Linked DNA regions of Homo sapiens. The protein of the gene in region 1 interacts with the protein of each later gene in a pairwise test. Each region holds a gene or a part of one and is shown in the gene's direction. Other genes may lie near its edges.

Region 1 (2,886 bases):
CCAGGCAGTCACAGCACCCACACCCCTGGGAGCTTGTTCAGTACAGCGTCCTGGATCCAGGCTCCCCCTGGTGTGATTTGAGAAGCCGGGAGGCCCCCGTTCGTCTGTCTGCCTGTCGGTCATGGCTAACATCAGTCCTCAGCTTCAGGGCCAGGGCTGGGCTGCCATGCTAACAGTGACCCTGTACCCGCCGTCCCCCTCCTCGCACCCGTTCCAGCTGCCCTCGGATTTCCAGGAGCGCGTGAGCCTGCACATGGAGAAGCACGGCTGCAGCCTGCCATCCCCGCTCTGCCACCCGGCCTACGCCGACAGCGTCCCCACCTGCGTCATTGCCAAGGTGCTGGAGAAGCCGGACCCCGCCAGCCTGTCCTCCCGCCTGTCCGATGCCTCCGCCCGCGACCTGGCCTTCTGCGACGGGGTGGAGAAACCAGGCCCGCGGCCCCCCTACAAGGGAGACATCTACTGCAGTGACACAGCCCTCTACTGCCCGGAGGAGCGGCGGCGAGACCGGCGGCCTAGCGTGGACGCGCCCGTGACCGACGTGGGCTTCCTGCGGGCCCAGAACTCCACTGACAGCGCGGCCGAGGAGGAGGAGGAGGCCGAGGCGGCGGCCTTCCCGGCGGGCTTCCAGCATGAGGCCTTCCCCAGCTACGCAGGCTCACTGCCCACGTCCAGCTCCTACTCCAGCTTCAGCGCCACGTCGGAGGAGAAGGAGCACGCGCAGGCCAGCACGCTGACCGCGTCGCAGCAGGCCATCTACCTGAACAGCCGCGACGAGCTCTTCGACCGCAAGCCACCCGCCACCACCTACGAGGGCAGCCCTCGCTTTGCCAAGGCCACGGCCGCGGTGGCGGCCCCGCTGGAGGCCGAAGTGGCCCCAGGCTTCGGGCGGACCATGTCACCGTACCCGGCCGAGACCTTCCGCTTCCCGGCCTCTCCGGGTCCCCAGCAGGCCCTGATGCCCCCAAACCTGTGGAGCCTGCGGGCCAAGCCGGGGACCGCCCGGCTCCCCGGGGAGGACATGAGGGGCCAGTGGCGTCCCCTGAGCGTGGAGGACATCGGCGCCTACTCCTACCCCGTGAGCGCTGCCGGCCGCGCCTCACCCTGCAGCTTCTCTGAACGCTACTACGGCGGGGCCGGGGGCAGCCCGGGCAAGAAGGCCGACGGCCGCGCCAGCCCGCTCTACGCCAGCTACAAGGCCGACAGCTTCTCCGAGGGGGACGACCTCTCCCAGGGCCACCTGGCAGAGCCCTGCTTCCTGCGGGCGGGCGGCGACCTGAGCCTCAGTCCCGGCCGCTCGGCTGACCCACTGCCCGGCTATGCACCCAGCGAGGGGGGGGACGGGGACAGGCTCGGGGTGCAGCTGTGTGGGACCGCCAGCAGCCCTGAGCCCGAGCAGGGTTCCAGGGACTCCTTGGAGCCGAGCTCCATGGAGGCCTCCCCGGAAATGCATCCTGCCGCCCGCCTCAGCCCCCAGCAGGCCTTTCCGCGGACTGGTGGCTCGGGGCTGAGCCGCAAGGACAGCCTCACCAAGGCCCAGCTCTACGGAACCTTGCTCAACTGAGCGCCTGCGTGCAGGCCTGGCCGTGGTTCGCTCCCCGCCAGCCCACGTGCCCCAGAAGGGCCGGCCTCACCTCTCCCCAGCCCCCGCTGTTCCCCTGCCCCGGCCAACAACGAGGAGTCTGTTCCTCCCCGCACCTCCTCTCCTCCCCAGCCCTGTAGGCCTGAGGGGAGGGTCCCCCACACCACGGTGTCCACCCGGCCCCGGCCCGTGGAACTCCACTTAGAGCGTTTTTCACGCGTCCTTCCCCCATGTGAGAGGAGCATCCCCCCTTTTATAAAGCGAAACTATTTTTATAGAGAAAAAGGGTCTTTCTTAACGCACTTGGCCTCCAGCTCCCTGGACGGCTGCCTTGGCGTTTTCAACACAAAGCTCCTTTATTTTTTGGGCGAGGGTGCGTGGGGCCTGCCCCTTGGAAGGGAAGGGAAGGACGGTGTCCTGTGGAGACCAGACTCTGCAAGTGGGGAGACCACCCCCGCAAGCCAGTGACAAGGGAGCCCTGAAGTTGTGTCCACGAAGAGGGAGCTGAAACAAATTCGGGGCTATGAAGTGTTTTAAAAATCCATTCTTCGCAGTGTGGCCACCACACCGCCCTGAGCCCTCCCACGGCCCATCGTCCCGGGTGGGCCGGGATGATGCCCCAGTGCGGCCGGTGCTCATCTCCGCCCCCGGGTCCGCCCCCTGACACCGTCTTACTCTACCTCAGACATGAGGAGGCCCTCCATTCCTGGTTTCTGTAGCTTGCATTCTTGTTGTCTCTGATGCATGCCCTGCCAGTTAGTACTGTATTTTGCATTCATTAATAAAAGACACCGGTGGAAAGAATCTGGGTTGGGCTGTTTCTCCTCCTCCTGCCTTTTGGTCTCGGGAACCTGGGGTCCCTGGTGTCCCTCCCCAGCCTTGCTCTCTGCAGCCGAGTTGGGCCCCTTAACCCCACTTCACACCCCATCCCCATAACACCCCGTCCCCACCCCGCCATCCAAGTTCCTATCTAGGGTGTGGATTCTCCTGCTTCTCCCAACCCACTGGAGACAACAGCTCTTTCATCCCATTCTCCTGCGCGCTGCCCCACCGATTTCCTGGCCCCTAATCCTCGTGTCTCAGACTTGGCTTCTGCTCCTTGAGATGTACTGGGGCCACGGATGGAATGTCGGCAGGTGGCCTTTTCCCGGGCACACGGGATGCTGCCGCTCTGCTCTGTCTTCCTGTTGGTATTGGGAACTGGCTGTCAGTCCCGGAGCCGCTCCATTGGTTAGAAAAAAAAAATTGCTTTCTTTTCCCCGGCTCTTTAAGATTTTCTCTTTGACTTTGGCTTTCTGCAGTTT
Region 2 (3,500 bases), on another chromosome or scaffold:
ACGTGCCTGTCTGGGACATTGGGGGCTTCACCCTGCTTGATGGGAAGCTGGTGCTGCTTGGAGGAGAGGAGGAGGTGAGAGGGGGCACCTGGGAAAGGGGAGGAGGGAAGAAAGAAAAAGGAGGAGGGCAGAACAGAGGCAGGGGCTGGAGGGAGGATAATGGGAAGGTGTCTGCCTCTCCCTCGGTCTGCCTGCCTGCCTGCCTGCCTGCCTCCCCTCTCTGACTACCCACTCCTGCGGGAGAACAGGGTCCTCGAAGGCCCCGGGTGGGAAGTGCTAGCTCCGAGGGCAGCATCCACGTGGCCATGGGGAACTTCAGGGATCCAGGTAAGCTTGAGGGGTGGAAAGGCCTGGGGCATTTGGGAGGCTCTAAAAGTGGGGCAGAATCCAACCCCCCAACCTGCCACCCATAACGACCCACAGATCGGATGCCTGGAAAAACAGAACCGGAGACTGCTGGTCCCAACCAGGTCCACAACGTTCGGGTAAGGCAGCCAGTGAAGGTGGGAGGTAGAGGGGAGAGCCAAGACTCTCGGACCCTCAAAGCTGAAAGGGCACTCTTGCTGGGTGATCTGGAGCAGGTTGCTGACCCTCTTTGGGCCTCAGAGTCCCAGTCTGTCAAATGAAGCTAATGAAATAACCTTTCTCTAGGGGTTGTTTATGGGAAGCCAATAGAGAGTGCAGGAGCCAGGCAGGGCAGTGCGCAGCTATAGTCCAAGCTACTCGGGAGGCTGAGCAGAGAGCACTGCTTGAGGCCAGGAGTTCAACACCAGCCTAAGCAACATGGGGAGACTTCATCTCTTAAATAAATAAATGAATAGTATAGGAGAATATATGATTGATGCTTTACAAATGGGAGTTTGGGCCAGGCACAGTGGTTCACACCTGTAATCCCAACATTTTGGGAGGCTGAAGCAGAAGGATTGCTTGAGACCAGGAGTTCAAGACCAGCCTGGGCAACATAGCAAGTCCCCAATTCTACATGGTAACATTCACCTGTAGTCCCAGCTGAGGCAAGAGGATCACTTGAGCCCAGAAATTTGAGGCTGCAGTGAGCCATGATCGCACCACTGTACTCCAGCCTGGGCGACAGCACGAGACCCTGTCTTAAAAAAACAAATGAACAAAGAATTAGGAGCTGCTGATTGCTCTTATTATTCCTGCTAATACAGCCTGAGCTTGGTGTTGGTCCTCCAAGACCAGTAGATCCTCTGGGATGTCTTGGGAGGGAAGGAGCTGAGGAAGGAGCACAGATTTCTGTCCAGCTGACATTCCCTTCCCCACAGGGGTTGCTCAAGAGGCTGAAAGAGAAGAAAAAGGCCAGGTTGGAGCCCCGGGATGGGTAAGGGTGTATGAGAGGCTGGAGGGGCTGGGGTTCAACACTGGCCCCTCCTCCTCCACCTCCTGCATATCATTCCAATCTACACCAAACACCCCCTGTGGCCTCTGTGTTCTGCCCCACATCAGTTGATGCTGGGGACATTGAATGATCTAGCACAGAGCCAGGGTGGGGGCAAAGTCTGACACAATAACTCTAAAATGGGAGCTAAGTCAATCAACTGGTCTGGGAGGGTTAGGGAAGGTACCCTTGAGCTGAGATCTGAAGGGTGGATGGAAGTTAACTAGGCCAACAGGGGGGTGGAAAAAGCATTCCAGGCAGAAGGAACAACAAGTGCAAAGGCCAAGAGGCCGAAAGAAGCAACTAAAACAAGGCCAAGAGGGCTGGGTGAAGTGGCTCCCAGCACTTTGGGAGGCCAAAGTGGGCAGACTGCTTGAGTCTAGGAGTTCGAGACCAGCCTGGGCAACATAGTGAGACCCCATTTCTACAAAAAATACAAAAATTAGCTAGGCATGGTGGCGGGCACCTGTAGTCCCACCTACTGGGGAGGCTGAGTGGGAGGATTGCTTGAGCCTGGGAAGTTGAGGCTGCAGTGCACAGAGATCATGCCACTGCACTCCAGCCTGGGCAACAGAGCAAGATTGTGTCTCAAAAATAAATAGGGCTGGGTGCGGTGGCTCACACCTGTAATCCCACAGTTTGGGAGGCAGAGGCAGGTGGAACATTTGAGGTCAGGAGTTCAAGACCAGCCTGGCCAACGTGGTGAAATCCCATCTCTACTTAAAATACAAAATTAGCCAGGCATGGTGGCGAATGCCTGTAATCCCAGTTACTCAGGAGGCTGAGGCAGAAGAATCGCTTAAACCTGGGAGGTGGACATTGCAGTGAGCCAAGATTGTGCCACTGCACTCCTGCCTGGGCAAAAGGGCAAGACTCCATCTCAATAAATAAATAAATAAATAAATAGGGCTGGGCACGGTGGCTCACACCTGTAATCCCACACTTTGGTGAGGCTGAGGCGGGTGGATCACTTGGGATCAGGAGTTCAAGACCAGCCTGGCCAACATGGTGAAACCCCACCTCTACTAAAAATATAAAAATTAGAAAATTAGCCAGGCATGGTGGTGGGCACCTGTGATCCCAGCTACTTGGGAGGCTGAGGAAGGAAAATCACTTGAACCTGGAAGGCAGAGGTTGCAGTGAGCTGAGATCCAGCCACCGCACTAAACAAGACTCTGTCTCAAATAAATAAATAAATAAATAAATAGGATAAAATAAAACAAGGCCAGGGAGGCTGGAGCTCAGAAAGTGATGGATTAGGTGGAGGGAGATGAGGTGACAACATCTGGACCCAGCTTGGTCATGTAGGTCACCAGGAGTTGAGTTTATCCTAAAAGCAAGGAGGTGCCATGGCGGGGGGTGGGGGGGGCACGGGGGAGAAACGGGATCCGAATTGGGTTGAAGTCCTTCCTGGCCTTCCTCTACCCTTCAGGCTATGGGGGATGGGGAAGAGGCAGGAATGACGGTGTGCTCACCCACCCCCTTCCCAGACCCCCCAGTGCTCTGGGCTCTAGGGAGTCGCTGGCCACACTCTCTGAACTGGACCTGGGTGCCGAGCGGGATGTGCGGATCTGGCCACTGCACCCCAGCCTCCTGGGGGAGCCCCACTGCTTTCAGGTAAGTGTAGACAGTCCACCTCGATTCCACCTCAGTCCCACCTCCCACCCTTTGGCTTCACCCTTGGCCTCGATCACACCGTTGGATTCTCCATCCCAACAGGTAACCTGGACGGGTGGAAGCCGCTGCTTCTCTTGTCGCTCGGCCGCTGAGAGAGACCGCTGGATCGAGGACCTTCGTCGCCAATTCCAGCCCACCCAGGTCATTGCCCTCAGAAAAGCGGGACACGGAGACCCCGCCCACAGGCCTGGCCCGCCCCTTCCACTCTACCCAAAGCCAGCTCGCTCCATAACCCGCGCCCCCAACACACCTGCCCCGCCTGCATCGTTGCAACGGCTCCAAGACTCCCCTTCCATCTATTACCAGCCCCGGGAATATCAGACCCGCCCCTTCTGTCCACTCCCGGCCCCATATGCACCCAAAGCCCTGCCTGCCAGGCAATCGCGAAGTCTTTACTCCAGTACTACTCTTGTATGCCCTGGAG
Region 3 (3,500 bases), on another chromosome or scaffold:
ACTGCGGTCAGGGCAGGACATGGGGCACAGTGGCATGGTTGGTCCTGGTGTGCAGCTGTTTTTTATGGGGTCTTGCTCTGTTGTCCAGGCTGGATTGCAATGGCGCAATCACGGCTCACTGCAGCCTCAACCTGCCAGGCTCAAGCCATCCTCCCACCTCAGCCTCTCGAGTAGCTGGGACCATAGGTGTACATCACAATGCTTTGTAGAGATGGGGTCTTGCTACATTGCCCAGGCTGGTCTTGAACTCCTAGGCCCAAGTGATCCTCCCACCTCAGCCTCCCAAAGTGCTGGGATTGCATGCATTAGCCCCAGTGCCCAGCCTCCTGCATTATTTTAATGCTTCCATTATGTTGATGTACATAGTAGCTAATTCCCCACCAAGGAGCATTTTGGTTGTTTCTGGTTTTTCCCTCTTACCTAAAAGCTGCAACGAGTGTTTTGCACTTTTGTGTCACTGTGGTCTTTGTTCTTATAAGTGGGATTTTTGCCAAGTTGTATTCCAAAAAGTTGTGCAACCAGGTGTATCCGAGGGCATGTGGTGGTGGCTGGGTCTCCCTTTAGCCAGAGAGAAGCTCCTAGGCCTGTGCAGTGTCTGAACCACCCCTCGTGATTATCCCCAGTCTGTTCCAGAAATAATCCAGGATCTTCCCATCTCTGTCTTGAGAACACTGTGTAGAATCACGAATGTCTATGTAGAAAGGAAAGGGAGGGCAGGCCCCTCTGTAGGCTCTCATTGCAGAAGGACTCTGTCCAGCCCAGCCACGTGCCGCCCTCTGCTTCCTCTAGGAGGCAGACAGGCGGATCCTGCAGGCCCTCCTCGAGAAGGAGGACGAGAGCCAGCGCCTCCACCTGGCCAGGCGGGAGCAGGTCATGGCCGATGTGGCCTGGATGAAGCAGGCCATTGAGGAGCAGCTGCAGCTGGAGCGGGCGCGGGAGGCAGAGCTGCAGATGCTGCTGAGGTGAGTGGCAGCTGCTGACTGGGCTGGATGCTCCTGGCCTCAACTCTGATACCTTGAAATGCCCCATGGGTCACCTGTTACTGAAATATCTATTGGCTGGGCGTGGAGGCTCACACCTGTAATCCTAGCACTTTGAGAGGCCGAGGCAGGTGGATCGCTTGAGCCTAGGAATTTGAGATCAGCCTGGGCAACATGGCAAAACTCCAGGCTCTACCAAAAATACACAAATTGGCCAGGCGTGGTTGTTCATACCTGTAGTTCCAACTACTCGGGAGGCTAAGTGGGAGGATCACTTGAGCCCAGGAGGTTGGGGCTCCGATTAGCCATGACTACACCACTGCACTCCAGCCTGGGTGACAGAACGAGACTCTGTCTCAAAAAAAAAAAAAAAAAAAAAAGAAGAAGAAGAGATAGCTGTGTATGTTGTCCATCATTCCTGAGGAGCACATCTTCATAATGGACCTGGCCTCTGGGGGTGTTTCCCTTGTATTATCTGAGGTGGAAATCATTAAGGTTTAGAGTAACGATGTGTTCATCTGAAATCTTAGAGGTTTAGAAGGAAATTATTTTTTTTTTTTTGAGATAGAGTCTTGCTCTGTCACCCAGGCTGGAGTGCAGTGGCATGATCTCGGCTGACTGCAATCTCTGCCTCCTGGGTTCAAGTAATTCTCTGCCTCAGCCTCCCGAGTAGCTGGGATTACAGGCGCCCGCCACCACACCCGGCTACTTTTTGTATTTTTAGTAGAGATGGGGTTTCACCATCTTGGCCAGGCTGGTCTTGAACTCCTGACCTTGTGATCCGCCAGCGTTGGCCTCCCAAAGTGCTGGGATTACAGGCGTGAGCCACTATGCCCAGCCAGAAGGAAGTTATTATAGAGATGTTGAATGCTGCTTACATCTATAAAACTGAGTTTGGGTCCTAAAGACTAAACTAGTAGATTGAAATCATCAAATAATAAGTAGCATACATTGAGCACTTACTGCATGCTGGACACTGTGCCGGGTGCTTTACAGGCCTCATCTTACTGAGTCCTGACATCCAGCCAAGTGGTGGCTTGTGAGACCCGGAGACTTGAAGAGGTCACTCCGTCCAGGGTGAGCTATCAGTGACACAGGCATGCGGTGGCAGGGTTCAGGCACAGGCAGCGCCCTCCTCTCCATGTTCTGATGGTTTCATTCATCTCTGTGTTAAACAGCCACGGTGTAAGTCATCCCAATTCCTTTTTATAAGGAGATGGGGTATTAAAAGGGTAACTTAAAATACTTCCAACAGGGCCAGGCACGGTGGCTCACGCTTGTAATCCCAGCACTTTGGGAGGCCAAAGCAGGTAGATCACTTGAGATCAGGAGTTCAAGACCAGCCTGACCAACATGGTGAAACCCTGTCTCTACTAAAAATACAGTAATTGGCCAGACATGGTGGCACATGCCTGTAATCCCAGCTACTCAGGAGACTGAGGTACTAGAATCGATTGAACCTGGGAGGTGGAGGTTGCAGTGAGCCGAGATCGCACCACTGCACTCTAGCCTGGGCAACAGAGCGAGACCCATCTCAAAAATAAAAAAAATGAAAAACTTCCAACAGTACTTTCCGTGGATGCTGTCCTTAATTGTAATCTTTTCAAAGTGCATGTGGATGTTTATCTGCAGTGTGGTCCTGCAGAAGCCATGTGCCCTGCAGCCCTGTCTGTTCCGTAGCTCGCTTCCTGCCAGGGCGGGGAGGAGCCTGCTGTCATCCCTTTTGTGTTTGCCCAGGGAGGAGGCCAAGGAGATGTGGGAAAAGAGAGAGGCAGAGTGGGCCCGAGAGCGCAGCGCACGGGACAGACTGATGAGCGAGGTAATCCCAGCTGCGGCGATGTGGACCGGCTGTTGGGTCTTGGGCAGGTGTCTGGAAGTCCATGGTCAGTCACCCTGCCAGATGCTCTGGGAACAGAGTCTTCTCTGGTCATTTTAAGTGGGCTTTAAAAATCATTGAAAAAGTAATATGAGCTTAGTAGAAAAGAATTCAGAAGTACAGGAAGTAGAAATGGAAAAAAGTCCCCCAGAGCCCATCCTGTATGCAGCCGTAGCTGCTGCTTCTGTCTGCTCTTCTGTTTCTATGCCTGACATTTTTTCTACATGTATTTCTTACTGTCTTGTGCTATTTGGCTTCAAGCGTTGTGACATGCTGTTACATCTTTATAAACGGCATGTCAGGGGCTGTATCACGGACTGTCCTCTGTCACCCGCTGCCTTTCCATTCCCTCTTATGGGTGTGCTGTGTTGTTCTAATTGGAAGCCATTCTGAGAAACGCTGCAGAGAGCCTCTTGGTGCCTGAGGCTCTTCCCACACGTTTCCCCCCTCGGGGTAGATGACAGCCGTGACCTGGAGGACATAACTGCTTTCCTGGTCAGTGTGTACACTGTGCGTGGAAGATATACCCCAACCGCAGAGAAATCTGGGAGGAGAAGAGAGAGTGTTACCCATGGGCTGAAAGCTGTTGTAAAGTGGTTTCAAATGAGAAACTCTACGTTGTGTCTGGTAGTATGCTGTATTTT
Region 4 (3,500 bases), on another chromosome or scaffold:
CTATCACCCTGTCTCATTAATGACATCATTTTCAGAGCCTGATTTAGGCCAGTCTTCCTCCTTGTATGTGTCCTCCTCTGAAGAGGAGTTACCCAACCTAGAAAAAGAGTATCCTAGGAAAAACAGAATGATGACCTATGCTAAGGAGCTCATCAACAATATGTGGACAGACTTTTGTGTTGAGGATTATATTCGCTGTAAAGATACTGGCTTCCATGCAGCTGAAAAAAGAAGGAAGAAACGAAAAGAATGGGTGCCCACAATTACAGTACCGGAGCCTTTTCAAATGATGATAAGAGAACAGAAGAAAAAAGAAGAGTCCATGAAATCTAAATCAGATATCGAAATGGTACATAAAGCGCTCAAAAAACAAGAAGAGGATCCAGAGTATAAGAAGAAATTCCGAGCCAATCCAGTTCCTGCATCTGTCTTTCTCCCCCTTTACCATGATTTAGTCAAGCAAAAAGAAGAACGGAGAAGGTCTCTGAAGGAGAAAAGCAAAGAAGCTCTTTTGGCCTCACAAAAGCCATTTAAATTTATAGCAAGGGAGGAACAGAAGCGAGCAGCCCGGGAAAAGCAGCTGAGAGACTTTCTTAAGTATAAAAAGAAAACAAATCGATTTAAAGCCAGACCCATTCCTCGATCTACTTATGGTTCAACTACCAATGACAAGTTAAAAGAAGAAGAGCTCTATCGAAACCTTAGGACACAGCTGAGAGCCCAGGAGCATTTACAGAACTCATCTCCTCTGCCTTGTAGGTCAGCTTGTGGATGCAGGAACCCCAGGTGTCCTGAACAGGCTGTAAAGTTGAAGTGTAAACACAAGGTTAGGTGCCCAACTCCTGATTTTGAGGACCTTCCTGAGAGATACCAGAAACACCTCTCAGAACACAAGTCTCCAAAACTCTTAACAGTGTGTAAACCATTTGATCTTCATGCATCTCCACATGCATCTATTAAAAGAGAAAAAATTTTGGCAGACATCGAAGCAGATGAAGAAAATTTAAAAGAAACACGTTGGCCTTATTTGTCTCCAAGGCGTAAGTCACCAGTAAGATGTGCAGGTGTAAACCCTGTGCCTTGTAACTGCAACCCTCCCGTGCCCACGGTATCTTCCAGAGGACGAGAACAAGCCGTAAGGTAAGTAAGTAGGACGCAGTACTGACTGACTCATGGTTGCCAGATGAGTGTATGCAGCTCTGTGGAGTTTATGTTGGTAAATTTGAAAATACTTAGAAATTATTATTGTATCTATAAGATATTTTACTATATAATATATGATATTTTGTCAGAGGGTATTCTAAGAAATGAATATATTTTTCATTTATAAATTTTGGGGGATTAGAAAATAATAGTCTTAAGATTTCTAGTTTTACCTGGCTGGGCACAGTGGCTTACACCTGTAATCCCAGTGCTTTGGGAGGTCGAGGCAGGTGGATCACAAGGTCAGGAGTTCAAGACCACCCTGGCCGAGATAATGAAACCCCCATCTCTACTAAAAATACAAAAAATTAGCTGGGCGTGGTGGCGGGTGCCTGTAATCCCAGCTACTCAGGAGGCTGAGGCAGGAGAATCGCTTGAATCCAGGAGGCAGAGGTTGCAGTGAGCCGAGATCACGCCATGGCACTCCAGCCTGGGCGACAGAGCGAGACTCCATCTCAAAAAAAATAAATAAATAAATAAATAAATAAATAAATAAATAAATATTTCTAGTTTTACAGGTCAGATCCTTTTCAAAAGGTTACCTTTTTTCAAATTTTGAATTATCAAAATTCAAATTATCCCATGTTAAATCTTTGCTAAACAACATTCTGATTGGCTTAAAGTGGATTAAGCCTTAGTTTGTTACCCTCAGGAGATCACTTGAGGAAAAGAAAATGTTGGAAGAAGAGAGAAATCGGATCCTAACTAAACAGAAGCAAAGAATGAAAGAATTGCAGAAACTCCTGACAACCCGGGCTAAGGCTTATGACTCACATCAAAGTTTAGCTCAAATATCTAAATCCAGAGTAAAATGTCTCAGGTATCATGAAAAAATCTTGAATCTCCAGACCACTGGTTTTCAAACTCTTTTTTTTTTAATCAGTAGATAGTAAAATATGAGCAGATTGAAAATAGCATTAGTGTTTTAGCTTATGGATTTAAATTGTCATCAGTTACTTGTGTTCAGTGCACACACACTCACCTCATGGTGAGAACCAACATATAAACTCACCTTTATGGTGAGAACCATGAAGCTATGTTGATGAATACAGACATTTTCTATTGTGGCCTTAGTTAATGGTTATAATCTTATACCAATATCTGATCTTGTTCTTTATATTATTTTTGATTGCAGTAAACAGATATATCAAAGAGCTTTGTTCTAAGGTTTGGATGAAATCTGATAGCACAAATTAACACGTTAAACATCGGTTATGTGATGTGTTCATTAGCACATATGTTAATGTTTAGTAGTATGTGTTGCATTTTGTTAGTTTCAATATAAAAATATTCACGGAATTCTTAGAACCCCTTCACTAGAATTTTGCAGTACAAAGTTTGAAAACCAGTGTTCCAGATGTTGCACATAAAAATGTTGATGTTTAAGTAGGAAACTATCTCCCTCAAAGCCAGGTAAGTAATGTGATTTATTACTTTTTAATCTGATTTCTAAATATGCATATGTGCTTTTAATTACAATGAGTATTCTTTTATAATTTAGCTTTAATCCATTGATAAAGGGAGCTTAATTTGATGAACGTGAGCATAATGTTTCTTAGAAATAGATTACTTACCCTTAGGAAGTAAACTATTAATAGCTTTTTATTTTTTATTTATTTATTTTTTTGAGACAGAGTCTCGCTCTGTCACCTAGGCTGGATCCCGAGTTCAAGCGATTCTCCTGCCTCAGCTTACAGAGTAGCTGGGATTACAGGTGCTCACCACCACGCCTAGCTAATTTTTGTATTTTTGGTAGAGATGAGGTTTTGCCATGTTGGCCAAGCTGGTCTCAAACTCCTGACCTCAGGTGATCTGCCTACCTTGGCCTCCCAAAGTGCTGGGATTACAGGCGTGAGCCACCGTGCCTGGACAATAGCTTTTTCATAACACCAACTTGTGTATAATTAAGCCTAATTATCATTTAAAAGTATAATTATTTTCCCCAATCCATTAATCTTATTTATCTTGGTAGCAATTATATCTTACATAGAGAAAATAGTGTAGTTTAATTTATTATAGGATCTTGCTCAAACAGTGAGAACACTTACGGTAAATTTATATATTTTGGTTCCTGTTTCTCTTTATGTTGTATTCCCATGCTCTTTACTTCTCCTTTGACTTGCTCCCATTGAATTAACTTTGCCACTAACCTGTAGGAGATCTTATTTAGGGGAAAAAAATAACAGCAAAGGCTGGATGCCATGGCTCACATCTGTAATCCCAACACCTCAGGAGTACAAGGCAGGAAGATTGCTTGAGCCCAGGAGTTTGAGACCAGCCTGGTAAACATAATGAGA

What was found. The genes of interacting proteins can lie anywhere in the genome.
Region 2: the proteins of BEGAIN (region 1) and RASAL3 interact in binary tests that used the Homo sapiens proteins (3 or more experiments, as listed by UniProt).
Region 3: the proteins of BEGAIN (region 1) and TCHP interact in binary tests that used the Homo sapiens proteins (3 or more experiments, as listed by UniProt).
Region 4: the proteins of BEGAIN (region 1) and FAM161A interact in binary tests that used the Homo sapiens proteins (3 or more experiments, as listed by UniProt).

Annotation. Positions count from the first base shown.
Region 1 is NC_000014.9:100,536,647-100,539,532, reverse strand, and holds the end of BEGAIN (brain-enriched guanylate kinase-associated protein), read left to right. Parts: exon of another isoform or gene 1-217; coding exon 218-1,564; 3' UTR 1,565-2,386; downstream 2,387-2,886. UniProt on the Homo sapiens protein: May sustain the structure of the postsynaptic density (PSD).
Region 2 is NC_000019.10:15,458,045-15,461,544, reverse strand, and holds part of RASAL3 (RAS protein activator like-3), read left to right. Parts: coding exon 1-74; intron 75-248; coding exon 249-327; intron 328-423; coding exon 424-485; intron 486-1,286; coding exon 1,287-1,342; intron 1,343-2,889; coding exon 2,890-3,016; intron 3,017-3,118; coding exon 3,119-3,217; intron 3,218-3,500. UniProt on the Homo sapiens protein: Functions as a Ras GTPase-activating protein. Plays an important role in the expansion and functions of natural killer T (NKT) cells in the liver by negatively regulating RAS activity and the down-stream ERK signaling pathway.
Region 3 is NC_000012.12:109,910,274-109,913,773, forward strand, and holds part of TCHP (trichoplein keratin filament-binding protein), read left to right. Parts: intron 1-789; coding exon 790-962; intron 963-2,717; coding exon 2,718-2,799; intron 2,800-3,500. UniProt on the Homo sapiens protein: Tumor suppressor which has the ability to inhibit cell growth and be pro-apoptotic during cell stress. Inhibits cell growth in bladder and prostate cancer cells by a down-regulation of HSPB1 by inhibiting its phosphorylation.
Region 4 is NC_000002.12:61,837,061-61,840,560, reverse strand, and holds part of FAM161A (protein FAM161A), read left to right. Parts: coding exon 1-1,140; intron 1,141-1,855; coding exon 1,856-2,023; exon of another isoform or gene 2,024-2,616; intron 2,617-3,500. UniProt on the Homo sapiens protein: Involved in ciliogenesis.